2 linked regions of the Homo sapiens genome follow. The protein of the gene in region 1 binds, or shares a complex with, the protein of each later gene. Each region holds a gene or a part of one and is shown on either strand. Other genes may lie near its edges.

Evidence for each region.
Region 2: the proteins of NTRK1 (region 1) and NGF are in contact, whole or in part, in a crystal structure (PDB 1WWW), measured with the Homo sapiens proteins. Residues at the interface, in NP_002520.2 of Homo sapiens: His291, Val294, Glu295, Met296, His297, Cys300, Pro302, Phe303, Ser304, Leu333, Glu334, His343, Gly344, Cys345, Arg347, Thr352, His353, Met379, Asp380, Pro382; in NP_001424474.1 of Homo sapiens: His125, Pro126, Ile127, Phe128, Arg130, Gly131, Glu132, Phe133, Ser134, Ser138, Ser140, Trp142, Tyr173, Phe175, Arg180.

The regions. Positions count from the first base shown.
Region 1 is NC_000001.11:156,863,865-156,870,864, reverse strand, and holds part of NTRK1 (high affinity nerve growth factor receptor isoform 2 precursor), read right to left. Parts: intron 6,512-7,000; coding exon 6,437-6,511; intron 6,138-6,436; coding exon 6,066-6,137; intron 3,956-6,065; coding exon 3,887-3,955; intron 2,762-3,886; coding exon 2,616-2,761; intron 2,361-2,615; coding exon 2,218-2,360; intron 1-2,217. UniProt on the Homo sapiens protein: Receptor tyrosine kinase involved in the development and the maturation of the central and peripheral nervous systems through regulation of proliferation, differentiation and survival of sympathetic and nervous neurons.
Region 2 is NC_000001.11:115,331,439-115,347,683, reverse strand, and holds the start of NGF (beta-nerve growth factor precursor), read left to right. Parts: upstream 1-9,434; 5' UTR 9,435-9,480; intron 9,481-16,245. UniProt on the Homo sapiens protein: Nerve growth factor is important for the development and maintenance of the sympathetic and sensory nervous systems.

The sequences.
Region 1 (7,000 bases):
TTTGTCATGTGTAAGTTACATGATCTTACGACAATTCTTCATCTTGCTGAACTGTGGGTTTTTTGTTTGTTTTGTAAGCTGAAGAGGTGGACAAATTATCTTCTGACATTTTAGAAAGTGATTTTCACAAAATGAAAATAATGAAGTGGTGGATAAATCTCATTTATCCGAAAACTTTATAAATGTGGAATCCTCTGACCACATGCCAGAGGAGGTATGGTTTCCCCAGGCTTCCATTGGAATATGTGAGTTCAAAGGTTCCAGTAGAGTTTCCAGCCTTTTGTGCAAGCTCTGGGTTCCAGCCACTTCGAGGGGAAGCCCTGCCCTGCCCTCTGCTTCCCTTGGCTGTCCCATCCCCTCCAACTACTGTGGGGCCAATAACTCTTCCCCTTGAGCTGGTCTGCCACCCCTTATCCTCCTAACTGAGGGAGAGCAGCCTCTCTTCTCCTCCATTTAACCCATTTAGGGTGCAATTTTTTTTAAGAGATAGGGTCTTGCTTTGTTGCCCAGGCTGGTCTCAAACTGCTGGTCTCAAGTGATTATCCCTCCTTGGCCTCCCAAAGTGCTGGGATTACAGGTATGGGCCACTGTGCCCAGTAGGGAGTGACTTTTGTATAGGTAGTTTCTAGAAAACACAGATGGTAGCAAACATGTAAGTCTCCCAAAGAGAAAGCAAATCCTGGAATCACCCCAAACAGAGTTGATCTAAGGTCTCTCCATGCAGGGGTATGGCCTCTGCCTGGTCCCCTTTCTTTTACTCACTCTAGGCAGCTTTGCTCTCTGGAGCAGGGAGGAACTGCTCAGTGGCTAGTTGTCCCTCCACCATGTCTGAAGCCCCCTGCTCAGCGCCCCAGTGGCATCTCCCTCAACATGGTTCCAGGGGCCTCCAGCAATTCTGGGGTGGACTCTCCCACCAAAGTGAAGGCTCCCCAAATAAACACCATGCTCCCAGCCCCCCAGGCACACATTCCTGGTCCCTGCATATCCACTCCTCCTGCCCAGGTGGAGCCAGCTTTTTGGGTGGGCACAGCCCATTGTCAGCTGCCGTTGACCTCGTCAACAAGGCCGACTGAGTTACCTGTGGCTACTCTCATCGGCCCATCGCCAGCCTAAGGACAAAGGGTAAGGCCTGGGAAGATGTCCAAAGGCATGTATGGATAACAGAGATAGAGGCCAGAGAACGCCCAGGGGCAGGCAGGACATCAGAAGGCCATCATGTCCACCTTCTCAGCTTACAGATAAGAAAACCAAAGTGCAGGCAGATTAAGGGATTTTTCTGAAAGTCATTCCCAGAATTAATTAGTGAGAGAGCTGGAGCCAGACCTATGCCTCCCTTACTAATACGTTCATCACATGCCCAAGAGGATGCTGCTTCCAGAATCTCCAGAAAAAAGACCACGATACCCCCGAGAACTCATCCCGGATGCAGTACAACTGATATTGTGCCTCCTCCCTGGGTTCCAGTTTCCTTATATAGAAAAGTGATCTGCCGGGCACAGTGGCTCACACCTGTAATCCCAGCACTTTGGGAGGCCGAGGTGGGTGGATCACGAGGTCAGGAGTTTGAGACCAGCGTGGCCAACGTAGTGAAACCCTGTCTCTACTAAAAATACAAAAATTAGCTGGGCATGGTGGCGCGTGCCTGTACTCCCAGCTACTCGGGAGGCTGAGGCAGGAGAATCGCAGAATCGCTTGAACCCGAGAGGCGGAGGTTGCGGTGAGTCAAGATCGCGCCACTGCACTCCAGCCTGGGCAACAGAGCGAAACTCCATAAAAGGAAGGAAGGAAGGAAGGAAGGAAGGAAGGAAGGAAGGAAGGAAGGAAGGAAGGAAGGAAGGAAGGAAGGGAGAGAGAAAAGTGATGTACGGGAGGGATGGTCTGTTGGGTTCCTCTCAGCTCCAACATGTAAGGTTTCTGTGACCCTCTCCCTTGCAGCCAACACCATGTTCCCAGAAAGGGGTTCTAAGTCCTGGGGCTTCAAGTATAGCCTGGGGTCCCTGCTGGGTCAGTGCCCACCCTGAGGGTGTGTGCGTGCCCTGGGCTGCCCCAGAGCATAGGCCTGAGCCCTGTGGGTCTAAACCATCTCTGTCCGTCCCTCAACCTCAGTGTGCTCCTTATTCGTTGTCTCTTTCCTCCACAGTGTGTCTCTCTTTCCCCATCTTTGTCCCCTGTGCTCTGCCTGGACCTCTTGGGGGCTGCCAGCGAAGGTCTTCTCACCATCACCGTGGCTGACTGCTCCAGCTCTGTGAGGATCCAGCCGGCCTGCTCCAGGCCCCGCCCCTCCACCTGGCACCGCAGCAGCACGTCGTCCCCCACATCCACCGAGGCATTGGGCACCTGGACCTTCAGCGTGGGCACACCTGGCCACCCAGGACGCCCGAGGGCCAAGGGGTGTTAGAGCTGGGAGTGGCCCCAGAACTCTACTGCGGGGCTGCTCCTTCCCCCACCCTCCTCAATGACCTGGAGCCCAGGCGATGTCACCCCAGGCAGTTTCCCCCAGCCTTTGCCAGTGCCCATTCCCCAGGCCTTTTCAGTGCTTGCTCAGTGCCCTCTCCCTCAGGCAGGTAGGTCTCTTCCCCAGCCCCCTTACACCACCTCCCTCACCCGGCACCTACCACAGCTGGCATTGGGCATGTGGGCCAGGGGCCCTTGCCCATGACACTGCAGCTTCTGTTCAGGCACTCCGCCCAGTCCCTCCTCCTCCCAGCGCTGTAGCCAGCGCAGGGCACAAGAACAGTGCAGAGGGTTCCCCGACAGGACCCTGGGGGGCATGGGGGACACCAACAGAGTCAAGGAAAGGGCCTGAGGGATCACAGGGGATAAGAGGGAGCAGTTAGGCAGCAGGGAGGACCGTCTACAGGTGAAAGGGAGGACACAGAGGTCTTTCTCTCTGACTCCAGTAACAGGATGTTATTCAAAGAAATAGGCCATTGGGAGGCCGAGGCGGGCGGATCACAAGGTCAGAAGATCGAGACCATCCTGGCTAACACAGTGAAACCCCGTCTCTACTAAAAATGCAAAAACTTAGCCAGGCATGGTGGCGGGCACCTGTAGTCCCACCTACTCAGGAGGCTGAGGCAGGAGAATGGCGTGAACCCAGGAGGCGGAGCTTGCAGTGAGCCGAGATGAGATTGTGCCACTGCACTCCAGCCTGGGTGACAGAGCGAGACTCCGTCTCATAAAAAAAAAAAAAGAAAAGAAAAGAAAAGAAAGAAAGAAAAGAAAAGAAATAAGCCAGGCGCTGTGACTCACACCTGTTATCCCGGCACTTTGGGAGGCCGAGGCGGAGGATGGCTTGAGCCCAGGAGTTCAAGATCAGCCTGGGCAACATGGCAAAACCCCAACTCTACAAAAAGAAAAAATAACGTAAAAATGAAAGAAATCTAATGCAGAAAGTGGAAGACAAGACAGCTGACGTCTGAGGGATGCATGGGGCTCCCTCACCCCAGGCTCCCCAGGATGAGAAACCAGGCAAGGGCTCTCAGCATGGTGACAAGGAGGGAAGGGCACAGCCCCCCAGAGTGACCCAGAGGCTTTAAGTGCCCACCAGGTACACATGGACCCCTGCTGCCCCACTCACCCCTGTGCAGGGTGCCCTGGGAATGTGGGCAGATGTGCCTTGGACACACAGTGGGCCTGTAATCTGCTCAGCCAGGCCCAGCACACACACAGTCATCCAGGCCAGCTCCTCAGGGCAGTAGCCCCCTTAACGGGTAGTCCTGCAGCCCCTGCTTTGATGGGGGTTTCACTGGCATGCACATAGTCCCCAAAGAGACCCCCCAGCAGTGTCACACAGACACAGTGACCCAATGTCATCCAACAGACCCAAGTGCACACAGGCACACACACACTTGGTGCTCTTGCCCCTGGAAGCGCCCCCACTCACAGTTCCTGTAAGGAGAGGCCCTGCACAGTTTTCCAGGAGAGAGACTCCAGAGCGTTGAAGGAGAGATTCCTGCGGGCGTGGAGACACAGCAAGACAGACCCCTTGAGTGACCCGACCTCACTCTGACCAGAATGAGGGAGGGGAGGAGCCAAGAAAGAAGTTGACATCTGGCTCCCCCGCCCCGGCCTAGGCAACCAGAACCAGCCCTGGAAGGCAGTGTGTGTAGATGGTGGGGTGGGGGGTGGGGGGACTTTCTGAGTCCCACTCCTTTCCCTGGGACAACAAGGGTTAACCCCACTTAACCCCCTCTCCAGACCCCAGGGAGGGGGATCTGAGGGAACAGCCGCTCCTCCCTCCCCCACTGCTTTGGCCCCAGCTGGCAAAGTGCTGAGGCCACAGCTGGGGGAAGGGGTCCATCTGTGCTCCCCTCCCTACAGAGCCCAGGACGGGGCCAGAGGAAGAGGGGGAGGGTTGAGGCTGCCACTCCCTTGCCCCTACCTGACCACAAGGAACTCCACGCACTTCCTCAGCTCCCCTCCTCCTCCTCCTTCCGGGCCCTCCTCAGGGACTAAAAGGTCAGGCAGGAAAGGACCCACACCCCCACACCCCCAGCCCCCTCGTTGTATGGATGGAAAAAGTGAGCCCAGCAGGGGCCCGGCTCCAGGCCACACAGGAAAATGATGTAGGAGCCCCAGTGCCCTGTGCCCTGTGCCAGGCTGCCGCTGCTGGGACCCTCTGCCTCTGAGGGGCCTATCCTGACCCCTCTTCTTTCCTAGCCAACCTAGAATTTGTGGTGGCTGGGTGGGAGAAGTACCACCACATAGGGACCAAAGACACAACCCACTCTAGAGCCAGCTAGAGCAGGTGTAAGTTCTATCCTGCCACTTACAGCTGTGTGACCTCAGTCCAGAAACTCAACCTCTCTGATTCTCAGAATTCTCATCTATGAAATGGGGACAAGAACACTCTCTCTCTCACCAGGTTGATTGTGAAGATTCATTGACATAAGTATCGTGAAGTGTCATTGAGCACGTTTTTAACTGAAGCCCCGGTGCATAGACGGTGATATGACATCACTTTATTTTGCTTTGTTAAATTGCTGGACACAGCAGAGTTTAGAGGACCCTGCATAACTCCATGAGTGTCAGCCCCACCATCCTTCCCATCTCTCTGCCTGCTCATATTGGGGGACAGGGGAGCTGAACTCCTGCCCTCAGAAGGCCAGGGAGGGGCTGCCAGGGACTCTGATAGTCTCTCCTGCCCATCCCATGACCCTCTCTGTCCTACAGCAGGGGTCCCCAATTCCCAGGCCACAGATGGGTAATAGTGCCACTATTCTCCAGCCTGAGCAACAGAGGGAGACCCTGACTCTTAAAAAATAAATTAAAGAAAAAGAGAAGCACAGCAAGGAAGAGGGGCTATAAACAGGGCAAATATGTGGTCTCTTAGGAACCGGGCCACACAGCAGGAGGTGAGCAGCGGTGAGTGAGCATTACCGCCTGAGCTCCGCCTCCTGTCATATCAATGGCAGCATTAGATTCTGTGAACTACTGCGCACGTGAGGGATCTAGGTTGTGTGCTCCTTTTGAGAATCTAACTAATGCCTCATAATCTGAGGTGGAACAGTTTCGTCCTGAAATCATCCTCTCCTCCCGCACCATCCGTGGTAAAATTGTCTTCCATGAAACCAGTCTCTGGTGCCAAAAAAGTTGGGGTCCACTGCTCTACAGGAGGGATAGTTATGACTCCCAGGAATGAGGAGGGTGACAAGTGGCAGACCTAACACCCCAGCTCCCAGGATGTCCTAGGGGCCAAGTCAATGAGTCCCTGGGAAATGGAGTCCCAGCCAGAACCCAGGAGTCCTGCTCCTGCCGCTTGCTCCCTTTGCACTGGTGTGTATCTGAGCCCTGGGAAGAAAGATAGGGCAGGCACCTATGAGAAGTGTCCTTGCAGCATGGACCATGGAAGTGAGATGGCAAGGAGGACCTCTAGCTGTCAGGGGCGAGAGCATGCCATCCCTGAGGGAGATGGGAGGAAGCCCCAGGAGAATGGTGAGGTGACTTCCCTGACCAGGCTTGGGCCCTCCTCGCAATCATTCCCCGGGGACAGCCAAGCCCATTAGCAGCCCAAGTCTGGGTGTCCTCCCCAACTCCCACTGCCCAGCACTGGCCACACTCACAGGCGACTGAGCCGAGGAGTGAAATGGAAGGCATCTGGCGCCACGAAACGGAGACCACTCTTCACGATGGTGCTGGGGAGGGGTGCAGGAGGATCAGTCCCCAGGTCTCAGCTACTCTGGGCCCCTGGCCCTCCCTGCCCATCCCAGCCTCCCAGTCCCCTGTGCTGAACCCCTACCCCTCCTCAGGCCCCTCATTGTTTCCTCAACTACTCTAGACCCCTCAAAGCCCTGAGCTTCCTGACTTCTCCCAGTCCCTCAGTGCTCAGCCTCTCAGGTCCTCCCAGGCCCTCGGATGCTTGAGCCCTCCCTGACCTTCTGGTCTCCCCCAGGCCCATGCTGAGCTCCACACCCACAGTCCCCGTTTCCCTCACAGGTTTCTCAGCTCCCCCAGGCCCCTCAGATCACGGAGCTCCAGATGCTGCAGATGCTGCTGGTTCTCGATGTAGCTGTGGGGAGAGCGGATGGGAGTCACAGGGCTCAGGCCCACACTTGAGTTCCCATGCCCACCCACTTACTCCCTCACAATACACATGCACATGCCACATGCACACGCATATGCACCTGTTCAGACCTGCATACACACTTACACAGGCGTGCACACACAAATGCATACATGTGCACAGAGACGCACCTCAAGTCACACATGCACATGTGTGTGCATGAACACACAAGCGCACATACATATGGATCCCCACACCCTCACACATATGCACATTCTCACATACCTCTTGCACACATGCACACACCTAGGTATGCACATGCGCACACACAGAGGCATAAGCATCTGCACAGATGACGCCATGCACCTGCACATGTGCCTGCAGGAACACGCTCACCCATGGACACACAGAAACAAAGCTCACGTCCATCTCTCACGTGCACACACACAAGTCCATTCTCAGATTGGTGTTCTCCTTTTATATCAGGCATCCCTG
Region 2 (16,245 bases), about 42 Mb from region 1:
CTCTCTTTCTTTAACCTTGTGACAATCACTCAAGCGTCCCTTAGTCTGCCCAAATACTGCTAATCCCATCAGGCTCAGCCCATGAAAAGGCATGTGTGCCTGTGTATGTGTGCTGGGGGGCTGTATGGGTAGAGCATGTGTGCTGGAGCTGTGGTGGAAAAGGAGAGACACCCAAGTCTGTGCTGTGTACTCCCTACAGAGCACTCCCTACACCCTCTCATGTGCCTTACACGCAGGTGTCATTTTCATTTACAAGCATTGGACTCAATGAGCAAAGGGGCTGGAATTAGGAACTCAAATCTTGTGGTTCTAAAGCCTAGGCTTTTTTTGTTTTGTTTTGTTTTGCTTCTCTTGGGGAAAGGTGTGTCCTAAGAAAGTATGATTATCCACAGAAAGGCAAATGAATCTAAGAGTGTGCATGTAAGCATATTGTTAAGCAGCAATTAAGAATGGAATACCTACTGCATGCAGTCATGGTGTTATGTGCTGGGGATGCCAAGGCCCCTGCCACCCCAGAGAGTAGCTTGTAAAGGAGGTGGGGAGGAGAAGGGGGTCAAACGAGCAGATAGGCCTTTATAATACAGTGTGTAGACTGCAGAGTGTTGTGGAGACCCAGTCAGAGGGGATGATGGGGTCACAGAGGAGGACACCTAACCCAGACTTGGGCAGTAAGAAAGTCACATTTGCACTGAAGTCTCAGAAATGAGGTGGAGTTGGCTTAGTGAAGGAAACACAGAGCAGAGAAAGCGTCCCAGGAAGAGGAAGGAGCATGTTGCAAAGGCCCAGAAATGAGATAGAGCATTATTCATGGAAGTCAATACAGTCTGTCTGTGAGCAATCTTAAAACCTAAGCAAAATGATTTCAGGGCCTGCCCATTGACCTTGTATTCTCCCAATTATCTTCTTCACTCCATTTACAAACTATCTCCTCCATCTTTTGAGTTACCTCTGCTGCCCACTGAAATGCAAATACTCCTGCAAGAACCAGTGGACTCCAGTGGTTTCATCTCAAGCCCAGCAAGTATTCTAGGCCATTTACTGAGGGTAGGATTGAGACCTGAAGATGACCTAAGGTCCCCTAGAGCAAGGCAATTTTTGCCAGACTCAGAATTTGGCAGAAGTTGAAGTCCTGCTCGAAGCAAGCCTCTTGTCAAATAAGGGGTGATGCATGTTTCCCATTGGCTCTGTAGCAGCTCAGCCTGTAATTCCACACAACGGAGGCACATCTCCAGTACCTGAAGAGGACCTGGGAACCCCCTACTTGTCCAAAACTGCTGCTTACATAACAGTAGTACAGCTTTGAACTGAGCATGGCTGAAGGGGCACAGCTAAAGGTCATGGTGGAGTTAAATCAGCCAGCACATCTGAGTGACAAAGACAGTCTTCTTAGCTTCTACCATGCTGACAAAAATTGATTTGGTTCTTTAAGAATTTTCCCAATTATTAGTCTGTAAGGTATAGTACTGAGGGCATGAGCTTTGCAGACTGTCTTAGACCATTTGTATTGCTATAAAGGAATATCCAAGGCTGGGCAATTTATAAATAAAAGACATTTATTCAGCTTAGGATTTTGAAAGCTGCACAGGGAGCACAGCACTAGGATTTGCTTCTGGTGAGGACCTCAGGAAGCTTCCACTCATGGTGGAAGGTGAAGGGGGATTGGCATCACATGGGGATAGGAAAAATGCAAGAGAGAGGGGAGGGTGGTACCAGACTCTTTCAAATAATCAGAGCTCATGGAAACTAATAGTGAGGCTTCACTCATTACCGTGAGGACAGCACAGGGCCAGCCATGAAGAATTGTCCCCTTGACTCAAACACCTCCCACCAAGCCCCATCTCCAACATTGGGGATCAAATTTCAACATGAGATTTTGAGGGGACAAATATCCAATCTGTGATATAGATACAGACTAGGTTAGCTATTTGCTAGTTTTGTTCAACATGATTATTCAAACCCTCTGAGCTTAATTTATTCATCCATATGAAATGCATTTGTTGAAAACCTATTATATTTCAGGTATTATGATGGAGTTTAAGGTTCCTGAAAATTTTATAGTTTAGTGGGGATAGCAGATTGTTATTTATTGTACAAATGTGATAAGGAATGCATAGGTATTCTCTTTCACATTTCCCAGTTGTGTGATCCCCCCCGATTCCGCCAGGGGCATATGATTTTCACAGGGTACCCTTGGGACTGTTGCAGCTGGAATGCAAAGGGAAAATGTCCATATACATCTTTAGCAAGACATTTCATAGCGAGACAGTGGTTTTGAAAGTCAGTCATTCTTGTGAAAGAAAAAAAGGGGAAGGGATTCTGAATTTCTTAAACTCTCACAGATTATAAAGAGCCAGGCTTGGAGAGCTTGATCATAGAGTTTTATGGGAAAGGCAAGGTGGTCATCCCCTAGGGTACCCAATTGCTCTCACACTTTGGCCTGCACCTCAAGGTGGAGAGTGAGTATTATAGAAATAAACAGGAAGGAGGGAACCAGGTAACACTGGAGCGAGTGATCTGTTTCCCTGGGTTCTAGCCTCTGGGAGATGCCCCATAGTTGGTATGGTGCCAACATGGTGGACAGTGAGAGTGTGGCTTGATGGGGAGGTAAGTTCTCAGTGGAGACTCTGAGATGATGCTACTGGTTGCCTTCAGCCTGTGTGCAGTGTGCAGAGACAGCTAGCCTCGACATCATTCCTGATCTCCAAACTCCATATGTTGCACATATGTCCTTGAGTATTCCATGGGCCCAGCAAAATCCTAAATTGAAGACCCCTGCTTCCAAGGCCACTACATAGGCCCCACCTCTGGATGCTCCATCTCCATAGCCAGCACCATCATTTACCTGCTCAGGCAAATCAGGAATCCAAAGGGCACCCAGGAGACCCTTTTCTCACCCTACCCCTGCATCCAGCCATTCCCCACTTCCTGATGAATTTACACGCTAAGTTTTGTTTGAATGTCTCCTCTGCATGCTTAGCTCCCCATGCATGGATCAGGCTGCTGCCATCACCGTTCACCCTGACTATAACTACCGGCCCTAGGTGGTCTCTTTGCATTTGGTTTCACCCTTCATTATCCATGCCTTCCTCGACCTTCCCAGTGACTGATCCAGCAGTATCTCCTACCACGTCATGCCCCACCAGTTCTGAATCAGCTGCAGTTTCCCGTACGCAACATACCATCTCACACTTGCACACCTTGGTTAAAAGTGTTCCTTCTGTCTCAAATGATGTCCTTCCCAGCATTCTTCTCCTGGCTCCTACACATGCTTCAAAGCTTATCTTGGGCAATATCTCATTTTAAATGATTTATTGAGCATGTGTTTTGTGCAATATGGAGGGCTGGAGAAGCACCTAGAAAGGGCACTCAGTCTTGACTTGGAGGATCAGGGAAATCACCTGACTAGAAATGTCATTGAAGATTCTCAGAGCTGAGTTTCAGAGGAAGAGGAAATGGACAGGTGAAGGAGTAGGGAGAAGGCTAAAAGTTTTTGAAGCACTGGAAACACCATATAGGACCTGTGGGGCTGGTGCTGCTTGTGAAATGAACTGAAGTAAATTCACCACGGCAGAGGCTAGAGCAAAGAAAAGAAAGTAGCAAGAAAGGAAGATGAAGGGGCTGGAGGAGCCAGATGACACAGAGCCTCGTAAGTCTCTTCAAAGAATATGGAATTTATGCAAAATGCAATGGGATGACAACAAAGGCAAAGCTCTAAGTTGGTTGAATTTCCCATCTCTCCAGCTTCTAGATCCTCCCTTACAGATTTCTTATCAGTTTATGTGTCTGATGCCCCATTGGATAGTAGGTTCCTATATAGCAATAATCATTTCTTCTTGATCTTTGTTTCCTTGTACCTAACACAGATTCTACCCCAGGATAGGATTTTAATAAATGCAGTGAGCTCAGTGTCACCACTGAAGGGACAGAGATCTACCCAGGATGTGGCAGAGCCCATCTATCCCAGACTCCTGCATAGGAGCATCACAAATGAAAGTGTGGGGTTCTTGCCTGCCTCAGCACCACAAAACCTTAATTGTCAACATGATACCATGTGACAGGAAAGAGCAGCTGTGATGCTATGCAGGCAAACTTGATCCCTGGGGAATCCTGCCCCAGAGGTATCTCTTGGGTGGCCCTAATAGGAATGTACCAACTCCAGGGCCAGGGAGGGTTGTATAGTGAGGACCCAGATGGAGGCACACTTGAATTGGCTGTAGGCTCGTGAGGGACACTGAGGGTTTGGCTCAGTGGGAGAGGAGTGAGAGAGCCTCAGGGGACTCTGAAGAAAGCACCAGTGAAAGCCACAGGGTCACCAGGGGTTCTTGTGGAGACCAGTTCCTGTGGAGACTGGAGTCAGACCAGCCTGAAAAGGTGGAGGCTCACAGCTGTTTGAATCGGGACAGCAGAGGAGAGGATCCAGTCCCCAGAGGGCTCACCTGACTCTCCTTGCACCTAAGGAGATCATTGACTTGGTTGGCACTGACTGTGTCTGCATCTGTCTCACTCACCTGCCCTGCAACTCACCAAAATCACAACTGACTTTTATGGGCCTGGCATATAATATACATTAAATAATGCACATTTATTAAATAGGTGACGCAAATTAATATAATTTAAATTCCATGTATCTACTGGGGACTACTAGAGTGGGGAGGAAGGAAATGGGGCAAGGGTTGAAAAACTAACTGTTGGGACTATGCTCACTATCTAGGTGATGAGATCAATCATATCCCAAGTCTCAGCATCAGGCAATATACCCCTGTAACAAACCTGCACATGTGCCCCCTGAATCTAAAGTAAAAGTTGAAATTATTAAAAAATTTAAAAATAAAAAATTCTATGTGTTTATAGGCTGTTTTGTTCATTTGCTGAATCCCCAGCACCTAGAATGGGGCTGGCACGTAGCAGGTGCTTGAAAATTGTTTAACATATTCACTCCATATAATGAAAAGTAATTATTATTATTACGGCTCAAGGAGGGTCAATCTTTCTCCCAAGGACACACCACTTAAGAGGACAGATGGGCTAAATCTTGCCAGTTCCAAACTGGTGACTTTCCTGGGCTGCAGGAAAAGAGCTGAACTGTCCTGGGCCCACGTGGATTTCCTGACCTTTCAAGAATGGGATCTGTGGGGCAGCTGCCTGGCTGAGTTAAGAGCAAGGGCTTTGGATGGAGGGGCTGAGAGTCAGAGGAGAGGCAGAAACACAGTCCTCGCCAGGGCCTGTGCAGATTCGCTGAAACAAGAACCTAGGTAGTGCTTCGCACATAACACTCAAAGTGTTGGTGATTAAAGGAGAGGCCAGAGTTGAAACCATGCTTGGAATTATAAAATTAGTAGAAAAAAACACCTGGAAGAACAAGAGTGGAGGAGAATGTAAAGCCCCAGGACTGAGTTGTGGGAGGCCCATGAGTGCAGAGGGCAGATGAAATCAGAGAGGTGGCTAGTAAGCCAGGATAGTGTGGTCACAGGAGTTCTGAAAGGAAAGTTGTAGACAAAGGAGGTCATGAATAGAGTGGACTAGGACTGTCAAAGTCAGCTGAGCTTGGCTGAAAGGAGGAGGAGGCGTGGCATTTAACAGCAAGGGATTGGGTTCAATTCTCTACTCAGCCGTTTGGCTAGCTATGAGACCTGGGAAGTGACTTACCTCTCAGAGTTTCATCTTATCTACAAATCAATAGGACCAATTAATAAGGCTAGGAAAAATGCCTTGCCCAGTACTTGAAATAAGGCAAGCACTAGATAAATGCTGCTGAGATTGTGTTGGTGTTGGTGGTGTTCTTGCAACTAACGACCTTTAAAAAAAATTATCAGTTTAGTAGGGAGAAAGGAAAGGTAGGGGAGGAAGATGGGAACTTGGTTGCAGAAAGTTTCGGGGAGGGGGTGCCAAGGAAATGATGGGTATAGATTACCTTGCTGAAGAATTTGGTAGTGAATGGAAGCTAAGAAATCCAGAGTTTGGGCTAGCAGTTTCTTTAAGAGAGAAAAGGCAAGTGAATGTTCACAAGCAAAAGCGAGGGAACTAGTAGAGATGGAGGAACTGGAGATCTCAGCGAGAAACAGCAAAAGCCAGGAACAGGCCACAGGAGTAGGCAGGGATAGCCCAGAGGAGAAGGGGGCACCCCTGGCCCTCTCTGCACCCTTGCCTACTTTAGCTCCTTTACCAGCTTTTTCCTGTAGACTGAATTGGTCAGTTTTTCTCCCAGCCTCTTTCAGGGAGTGTAGTAAAAGGAAGGCTTGCTTAGAAGTCAAAAAGCCGGACACTGGCCACGTGTATTTGGCTGAGCCTTTGTCCTTCCTGAGCCCTTGTTTCTTCATCCATAAATAAGGTGGCTGGATTGATCATTTCTGTGATTCTGTGAACATGTCATCTCACTAAGCATTATGAAACATTTCCTCTTCTGAAGTTCTTCTTCACTCTGATTAGAAGGAAGAGGAAAAAAAAGTCTTTAAACGGAAGCTATCACTTCCTCCAGCAATTGGGACAATATTTCTGTGTTTCACATGAAGAACTAGCAGATCCAGTGATTCCATCCTTGCTGGCAGATCTCTGCTGAGCCTGCTGGTGTTTTAAATAGCACATGCACTTTGTCCTGGCCTCCTGGAATGAAGCAAGGGAGAAGCCAGGGGTTTGTGCTAGCTGACTGTTGCTGTTGATGAGGCACTCAATGGCTGCAGCCTTCTAGATCTTCAGAAATAACAACAATTACTGTACACGCCACAATCTCTCCTCCAAGTCAGCAAATGCATCAGCTGCTGGTTATTTTGATACCCTGGATAAAAGGCTCTTTCGAGAAAATCTAGTACAGAAAAACATTCTTATCCTCTGCTTGTCTGCACCATTCCTCTGGCCGCTGCCCTCTCAGCTGTTTTTCATTCCTATGAATGTAGCTGGTCCAGGCCCAGAAGTCCTTCTCTCAATGACCCAAGAGAAGGACATTTCTGTTTGAACCTTCTTGAAAGTGGAAGAGGCAGGGGAAAAGGCACCTGGCTGTGGTCTCTGTGCCAAAGGCAGGCTGATCTGGAACCTGCTGGAAACCAATCCAGTGTTGGTGGGTTGTCTGACAGTCACAAATGACTCTGACCGTTGTTGGATTCAACAAGTATTAACTGAGCACCTACTATAGGCCAGGTCCTATGCTAGGACCTAGGGAAACTGTGATAAACATGGCCAGGGACTAATAATCAAGCCCCCACTAGAACATAAGCTCTCTGAGAGCCGGTACCACTGCCAGCACACAGTGCCTGGCATATGGTAGGCTCTCAATCAATAATCTTTGGAGTATTTTTGTGTTTGTTGTTTACATGTTCTTATTTACTCAAGATCCTTGAAGTCCAGGGACAGAAATAGAGGTAGTTAGGGGCAGAAAGGAGCTCTTATTAAATCAACATGTGCAAGAAGAATATGACCAACAATTTAGGGGGTGAGGATGGAGCATATAAGCAAACTTATAATCTGCTTACATCACTTAAAGTTTCCCCCTTACATACCACATGGAAAAGAACCACAAGTGTCCCAAATCCTTTTGTCCTTCTGAATGATGCCACAAGAACACATACAAATGCTCTGCATTCAACAACCAAATTCTCTGTTATTCTAAAAGTTTAATTTCATACCCAAATTCTCAGGCAGCTATTATGTAAGGCTTGGGGCTAGTGCTTTCCAAACAAGTTTATACATGACATGATTGATGGATGAATTCATCCTGTTATCTGGAAATTCTTTTGTTTAATTGACGATGATAAATTTCCTAATGGATCACCTCGACTATGATACTACTTTTGTAGAAAGGGCCATTCACAGTGTTCCCTGGCCTCTTGCCCTCACTTCCAAAGTGTGTTCATACACCAGCCTGTATCTGAACAAGTCAGAAGTGGACAAGCCTAAGGCTGGGAAACAACAAGGTCACACCAAAGCTAAGGCTGACTTCCAATTCCAGGGCTTTTTGCCTATTTCATCCTTCTCAGAGCATGTGTAAATGGAATGAACTTTCTTATGGGAGCAAACGTGAAAATAGAAAGAAGTAAGACCTCAAGACTAATCTGAATCAAGGGAGTTGGAAATGCCTAGTCAGGGCTTCATCTTGCTCAAGTGCCATCCATTAAGGGTAAATGACCACCCCCAGACTTAGGACAGGAATCATCTGCTTCACTAAATCCCAGTTCCCTGGAGGGTGCCCTTCTGCTAAGTTGCACTGGCTGGTGTTACCAGCAATAGGGAGATTCTGTGCCCCACCTTCCCTCCCTGTTACTCTCCTCACACCTACTTCTCCTCTGTGGCATCCATACAGGGTAGGGGTCCAACCCACCTTTGCTATAGGAAGAAGCGAAGGCACAGACAAGCTCAACACGGGAGGGAGTGGGGCTGTAAATTTCCAAAGAGCTACGAATCCCCTGGAATGCTACAATTAATGATGCACATTTGGTGACAAATTTGACTTCAGGGGTATTTCTCCCTTGCTCATTTTATGCTGGGGTGGGAACAGCCCTGGCAGAGGGGCAGGGGAAAGTCAGGCAAGCTCTCCTGTCAGGCTGAATCGAGGGAACTCAAGAAATTTTGAAGGGTCAGGAAGAATTTGTGTGGGGCCTGGAGTGTGGAGAGGGGGGCATGGGGGCCTAGGGTTTGCTGGCTATATCAGTCTGGGGTCACAGACCCCTTGCAAAACTGATGAAAGCTGCGGACCTTCAGCTCAGAAAAGAATATTAGCATTGCACACAGTCGCGCAAATCAGCCTACAGTTTCAGAGGGGCCAAGGACTCCGGGAAGTTCCTGGAACCCAGGGCCTTAAGTTAAGGTCCCGGCTCTAGCTCCTGACTCCTGAAGTCCTCTGCCCCTTGTCCCCATGCTGGACTTGCCGGGCCTGGGGGCCTTCTAGCTGGTTCTGCAGCCGCCTTCCCTTGTCAGAGGAGCTTGGGCACCTGCCCCTCGCGGAGCTCCCCCTGGGTGCTCACCTATCCTGGGATAAGGAAAGGCGCCCCGAAGAAAAGGAGCAGCCGATGCCTGGGGCACCGAGGGCGACGCCGGGCAGACCAGGGAGGCACTGGCGAAGGGCAACGCGCGGGGGCAGGGCGGAGAGGTGAGGGAAGCTGCGAGCAACTCCGCCCAGCCCCAGCCAGTCGGCCCAACGACCCCTGCCGGTGCCCCAGAAACTCCCCCTCCCGGCTTTGCGCGCGCGGCCCCTCAGACCCCAGTGGGTTTCCCTTTGACCTCTGAAGGTTTAAAGTCCTTCTCTGGCTGGGTCTGGCCAGCCCTCCAGGAGCGATCCGTCTGTAGTCCCCAGGACCCCCTCCAGCCGGGCACCACAGCCCAGCCACAGCAGGTGCGGGGCTGGTGGTGGGGAGGGGAGGGATGGGGGCCAGGATTTGGAGCGTGTGACTCAGGAGTACGGGAGGAGGGGCTAAGAATTCAAGAAGCCTGTGTGAGAGCAGCTCGGCGCTCCGGCACAGCAGAGAGCGCTGGGAGCCGGAGGGGAGCGCAGCGGTGAGTCAGGCTGCCCCGAGCCGATCCCGAGAGGGGCGCAGCGCGGGCGCGGGCAGGGGTGGCTGGGCTTCGCGGGAGAGTTTGCAAGGATACCGGTCTGGCGAGCTCTCTGGTTACCCCCGAGGCTCCCGCAGGCCGAAGAGCAGCCCTGAGAAATGTCCCGAGTGGGTGTGGGGGCGCGGGACCCTCGCGGGAGGACGAGTCGGACCGAGGGAACAGCGTTAGTTCTGGTCGTGGAGTCCCTAGTCCCAGGATGGCCTGCAGTCCAGGGAGCAGCCCTGGCGCCTGCAGAAGCCCACGGCCATGCCAGGGTCTAGCTCGAGGGCTAGAAGTGGATAACGCGCAAGTGAGGGAGAGCGAATGGGCGCGGAGAGGGATGCGCCGGCAGCTGGCGCGCCAGGGCGGGAGGAGTGGCGGCCAGCACCGCGGGGGGAGCGCAGAGCGCGCTGGCTGAGGTGAGCGCCGAGTAGGGAAAGTGCTGCGCGGCCCCCAGGTAGGGGGAGGAGCGGAACGGGGCGCGCTAGACCTGGGGCAGTTCCCTCAGCGCGTCTCGGAAGGGCTGGGAGTCGTGACTGAGGGCCCCGGGGGTTAACGCAGGAAGTCTGCGAGCCAACGCCGGGGTCCGTCCGGCGTACCGGGGCCCTCCACGGAGCCGCGTTGGACAACCTCAGGTAGAGGTCGCCAAGGTTCAGCCCTGCCACTTGGGTCACACGCTTCATCTCCAGCTGTCTGCTGCCAGGTGTGGGAGAAGCGGGCGTGGAAGGTTAGGGCGGGGAGCGCCTTGAGTTCAGGCGAGGAGGATCTAGGGGAGGGAGAGAGGACTCAGGGGTCAGGGAGCTGCAACTTTGAGCCAGCAGAAACAAGCAGCTTAGCTCCCTCTAATTACAAACCTCCTTCTAAAAAAAAAAAAAAAAAAAAAAAAAAAAAAAAAAAAAACAAAAACAAAACAAAAAAAATTTCGAGATTCTTAAGGAAGGTGTTTCGTGCTTGAACTTTTTCTTCTCTTGTGATTTGAGAGATTAAAAAAGAGCCTGCTTGCTAGGCTGGTTTTTCCAAGTTGTTCCAGGTTGGAAGTTGTAACAGTTCGAAGGATAATTTATGAGTGTTTCATGCATTAAAGTGTATTACAGCAAAGCCTTTTGGGTGCTGTGGGTATTAAGGAAAACTTAGTGCACGTTCCCAGCTGGAAACCAAAATAGTGCTCTCCTGGGTGCCTCTGCCCCATCTGTCATCCAAGGCCAATGGAAATCCTGTAGAAAAGTCACTTGATTAATTGTTCTGGCTCCATCCTCTGGGCACACCCACTGCCAGTGCCAGTCCCCTCCTCCCCAATCCATGCACAGCCAGCTGCACTCTGCAAATGCAGAAATGACAGTGGAGACCCCATCAGTAACTTCTCTCCAGGGTCCTCAAACTCTTGAAGCCGTCAGTTAAGTCTGCTGGAAGGGAATCTTTCCCCTTCTCGAGGCAGTGCAGAAGGGCAGCAGCCATTGGCCCCTGCCAGCCCTTCTTATCCTGTGTTTACAGTTTCCTCCTGAATGTCTGAAACTTTCTCCCTCTGCAGAGTCACAGAAGAAAGAAGAAAGGCTGTATCAAACCTGATGGGTCTCTTTTGTTGAATAAGTCATACGTCAACCTGAGCAACCCAAATGTCAATTCATGATGGGCAGTGTTTCCAGAGGGTCAGAGGAGACAGGCGGGTCTGGGGGCTGAGACTGGCCTAGCTGGAATTGACTCACACAGAAAGTGAACATTCCTCTTGTTGAAGGGGGATAGGGTTAATGCCACATGTTGCCAAACTCCTACCCCACTCTTTCCCCAACATCTTTATGCAGGTGAAGGGAAAAAGGAAGCACCAAAAATGGGAAGCCAAGATCACTGGGGCATGAGAACACTAATTTGACAGAAGTATAGGAGCACCTCAGAGGATTTTAGAACCAGCTGCTGGCACCACTGCATTTCCAACAGCAGCCCAGGCCCACCAGAGAAATGAACTGGGCCCACTCAGGGCAGTCATCCCGGTATTGGTGACTCTTTCCCTACTTTTAACCTGTACCAAGGAATGAGGTTCTTGCCTTCTCCTATTGCCCACCCCACAACTCTCCTGCCCCAAGGGCCAGTGGGAGCAAGGAATGAGGCTTCACACTCTCATTCTCTTTCAGGGAGAAATCTGTGCCTTGGACAAGAAGGGGGCCCTGGTTGCCGACATCAGCAGGGAGAGTAGGGTAGGGCAGGGCAGGGCTGGAGCCCGAGGGAAGTTTCTCATCATTACCGAGAATAAACTGATGAAAAAAATCACACAACTTTACTTTTTAAAGAGTGCTGAGCACTCCTGCTGCTCATTGATGGAGTGCTTTACTGCAGTACCCTGCATCAGAGCAGCAGGGAAACTACACAGAGATTCAGCCACTGCTCTTCTCTACTGGGCATGGAGTAGGGCCAAGGCCCAGATCCCCAAGCAGATGTCAGTGCCAGACCTGGGAGCAGAGGCCCAGCCATTTACCTTTTCCAAGTAAGAACTTTCACTGACTTCAGAGTCTAGAGCAAGCCTTAAGAGACCTTTGCTGGCAGCAAATTCTCTGATCTCAGGAAGCAGTGGAAGGTTTGCTGACGGCTTGCATAAAATCTCTGGATATCTGTGTGCAAACAACCCATGCTCCCAGAAAACACCTTTCTGTGACACAGAAAGAGTTCCTGTGTGTTTCTTTCACTAGCTGATCTCACAAACCATCAGCTCTCAGGCTTAGCCAGTTCTGAGAAATCACTTCTGTGGTGGACCATTTTGAGAAAACAGTGTACACTGGCATTGGGTAAATAAATGAGGATGAAAGACCCTTCCCCAATCCATTCCCATGAGACATCGCTTGATAACAGTGGGAAAATAGTTAAGATCCTAACTCCAAATAGCAGTAAGGCCAGGATGATCCTGAGGCTGATATGTGAATGGAGAAACTGAGGCTTTGGGGTCCTCGGTCTTTTATTAGGCTGTGCAGAAGCATAGAAACGTCACTATTTGAGCCGAGGAGAATAAACCTTCAGCCACAAAGTTTAGTGAAGACCAGAAGAATGAAAACATGCAATGGAGAAGACTTTCTGGTGGTTCGTGATGTTTTCATTGCTCCTCTCTGGGCTACTTTACATGCTTTTGAGGCCTCAGACTAGGACACAGTAGGAATCAGATTAAAATGTTAGGATGATCCCTTGATATTCTTCTCCTATATTTTGGGTAAACTTCCTGTTACAGTTTCCTCACTTGTGAGAAAGGAAGGGAAGTAGCTTTGTGACCTTGAGCAAGTCGCTAAGCTTCTCAGGCCTCACTTTCCCAACTCATTAGGCAAGTATATTGGATTTATATTGTTTCTGAATGGAGCTGTCAGCATTTTGGGACAATTCTTGGTTAAGTGTGACCAATCTGCACAGTGCAGATAGTTTAGTATTCCTGCCTCACCTCCTAAATGTCAGAAGTCATAGTGACAACCTCAAATGCCCCTCATAAAGGGCTAAGTGTATTCAAAGATAATGCTGCTCCCAGTTGAGAAGTCTTTTGGAAATTACCAATAAGGGCCCTATTGTTGGGGTTTCTGTGGTTAATCATCAAACTGGGGCTCCAGAAGTCAATTCCTGGGCTTCATCCTCCAAGAGCCAGCAAATCAGACTCTAGGCCACCATCGGCAGGGACCTCAGTGCTGTAGTCCCACCAAGTGTCATCCTTTGCCTTTTGTGAGTGAAGTGGACTACAAATGACCCATGGGAAAAGAAAATCAGAAAGAGTAAGGTGAAGGGACAGGTGCTATTAGAGCATGGCAGCTTCCTACTCTGCCATATGTTATTAAAAACACAGGCAGACTGCATGCCTGTGGAGTCTGCAGCACTGGGAGGAAATCCTTCCCTCCTTTGCTAAGTGGATCACACTCTGGCATCAGGAGGTTCCTTCCCTGAAGCAGAAGCCCCCAACACTGACCGCACTTAATACAACATGAGTGCACATTGACATCGAATTAATACAACTGTGCCCAAGCTGTGAAAATAAATGAGAATTGATAACGTGACATTTCCTTGAAAAAAAGTAGGCTAGCAACACTACACTCGAGGGATGGTGCTTGTGGCACTGGGTTTATTCTCAAGTAGAATAGCTCATTATTCTCACCTCTGCTTCAAGGTCTCATTGGGGGACAGAAAATAGAACTATTTGTTTATTTATAGTACCTAGGGTTAAAATGAATAATGTCTTCAGAGGGTAGGAGGGTATTATAGGAACACATGCTTTCTACTCATGCCCAACTCATTACAAGTAGGAGTGAAAAGGAACTGCAGAGCTTGGCGCTGATTTCAAATGAGGGAAAAAAAAGAAAGAAAAGAAAAGAAAGAGAGAGAGAAGAGAGAAAGAAAGAAAAAGAGAAAGAAAGAAAGAAAAGAAAGGAAGGAATGAAGAAAGAGAGAGAGGGGGGAGGGAGGAAGGAAGAAAGAAAGAAAGAAGGAAAGAAAGAAAAGAAAGAAAGAAAGAAAGAAAGAAAGAAAGAAAGAAAGAAAGAAAGAAAGAAAGAAAGAGAAAGAAAGAAAGTCTTAAGGAGCTCCCTCCCCAAATGAGGTTGATCTGATGATGAAATCTGTCAGGTGGAACTAGCAACAATGCTTTTGAATTGCCTAAGACTGTAGCCAACGCATTCACGTGCGGGAAGTCTTTTTTTTTTTTTTTTTTTTTTTAGTAGTACTATTAGTCAGAGTCAGACAGTCAGGATTTCCCTGAAAATCCACCACTGGGCTAAGCAGATTGAGATGTTTTGGCACTTTTGGCACCGCCTGTGGTGGCTTCTGCAGGTGGAGAGCCCTGCGAATGAAAGAAGCTGGCTATGAAATCAGTGGGAATGAACCACCCAAGTTTCACACAGAAGCCCTTCCACATTGGGCAATTTCAATCCACTACTACAGGAACAGTTTCCCAATAACCACGAAGTATTTGTTGTCAGTACAGATGGGCTGATTTTCCCATTTCCTTTGGCTGCTCCTTCAGTAGTCAGAGTTGGTGGTATAGGTCACCTCCCCTCTGTGTGCAGTTGCTAAGTGAGCCCAGGGAGGATGGTCTCAAGAGCTCAGCCCTTGCCCAGGTTAGGGGGTGGGGGAGACTGTCCTGACTTCAGTTCTTCATCATTACAGATGGATTACAACCCTCATTAGTAATGGAGTGACTTGCATGTCTCACTTGCTCAGTCTAGTGAAATGCCAACCCATTTTTGGATCTGAGCAGACCTGGCTGAGAGGTCAACGATTGAGGTACTGCCTCATCACTATGGATATGTATTGAACCCCCATTGTGTATGAGTGATGCCAAGTGGGACAGGCTCCCTTTGGATTATGGAGAACACTTTCAGAAAAAGAAGTCACACTGTTTCTAGCTGCCTGAGAGGTGCTGGACTAGATAAGCAGGGGGAAGGACGGGGTACTCCAGGAAAGTGGAGACATAGGAGGGCCTCTCCTGTCCCTAAGTTTTCTCATCTGTAAGACAAAGATATTAGTAGTAGCTATGCTGTCATCTGGCTGTTGTGCACATTAAGTGGGAAGGCATAGGCAAAACAGCAGCACAGGCCTGGCATGAGGGGGGCACCAACGAACATGAGCTTCCTCCCCTCACGTTCTCCCTTGGAAGGGCTGATCTGAGGGGAGCCCCCACTTCATAGTTGTTTTTTTTTAATTTCAGGTAGGATAACATCTTTTTTGTATGTTTTTAATGTATCTGTGCATATATAGCTTTTCTGTTTTGGGAGGAGAAATCTTTTTGGTTGCATTGAAGACTTCTCTAGGAATTTACTCACTGATATTTTGACCTTCTGTAGTTAACATTCTCATTTTGATAGAATTTTAACCAAACATTTCATCTTGCGATTTATCTTCGCCTTGTAATGTCTGGGTAAGAGAAGACTCACGGAGGTTCTCCTGTAATTTTCTTTCAGAGGCAAACTTCTCCTCAGACTCTTATTTCAGAAATGTTATGCAATGCTCTCTAAATAAGGCATTTCTTGAGAATGACCATGTTTGCTTGCAGCTTTAAGAATGTTTTGCTTCCTTACTCCACGTAACAACTCCTCTGTGTCTTTAGGATTTTAAATGTCTTAGGAATTCTTCAAGTTTACAAGAAAAGAAAGAGAAAGTGAATTTTGCTATGGCAGTGGGGCATTTCTGCTCTCCCAGACCAAGAGCCAAGGGTTAAGCAGCTGTTGCTGAATTACATAGAACCTGTGGTTAAAGGGGAAGATTGTCCTCGCCCCACAGGGGAGGGGGCCCACCATGTATGAGGCTACTGGATAGATTTTCTTCTCTCAATTAGCATCCTTATTAATATGCTACCTGGGACACTGGGCACTCTGGGGACTCAAAATAAATATAAATCATGATCCTGCCCCAAGGAGCTTGCTCAGGAGTCATAACTAAAAGGCTTAGTGGCTCATGAGAGAATATAAATGAGCTGAGGCCAGAGATTGCTGGGGCTGTGAAAAACTAGAGAGGCTATGCCTCATTGTTAAGGGACAGGCCAACCATTGCTGTAAAGGATTATAGGTCCAATACAGATCTCTTCAAGAACTTTTCAAGAAAAGCCAAAACTTTGAGACTGAAAAGCCAAAACTCTGAAATTTCTTCACTTTCCACACATGGGTACAGACCAAACAAAATTTGTCTGCAGGCTTTTTAATCTTCTTATGTGAATTAACACATGGAGCAATTGCAAGCAGTATCAAAACTGGAACTAGTGGAAGTACTAATTCTGTGAAT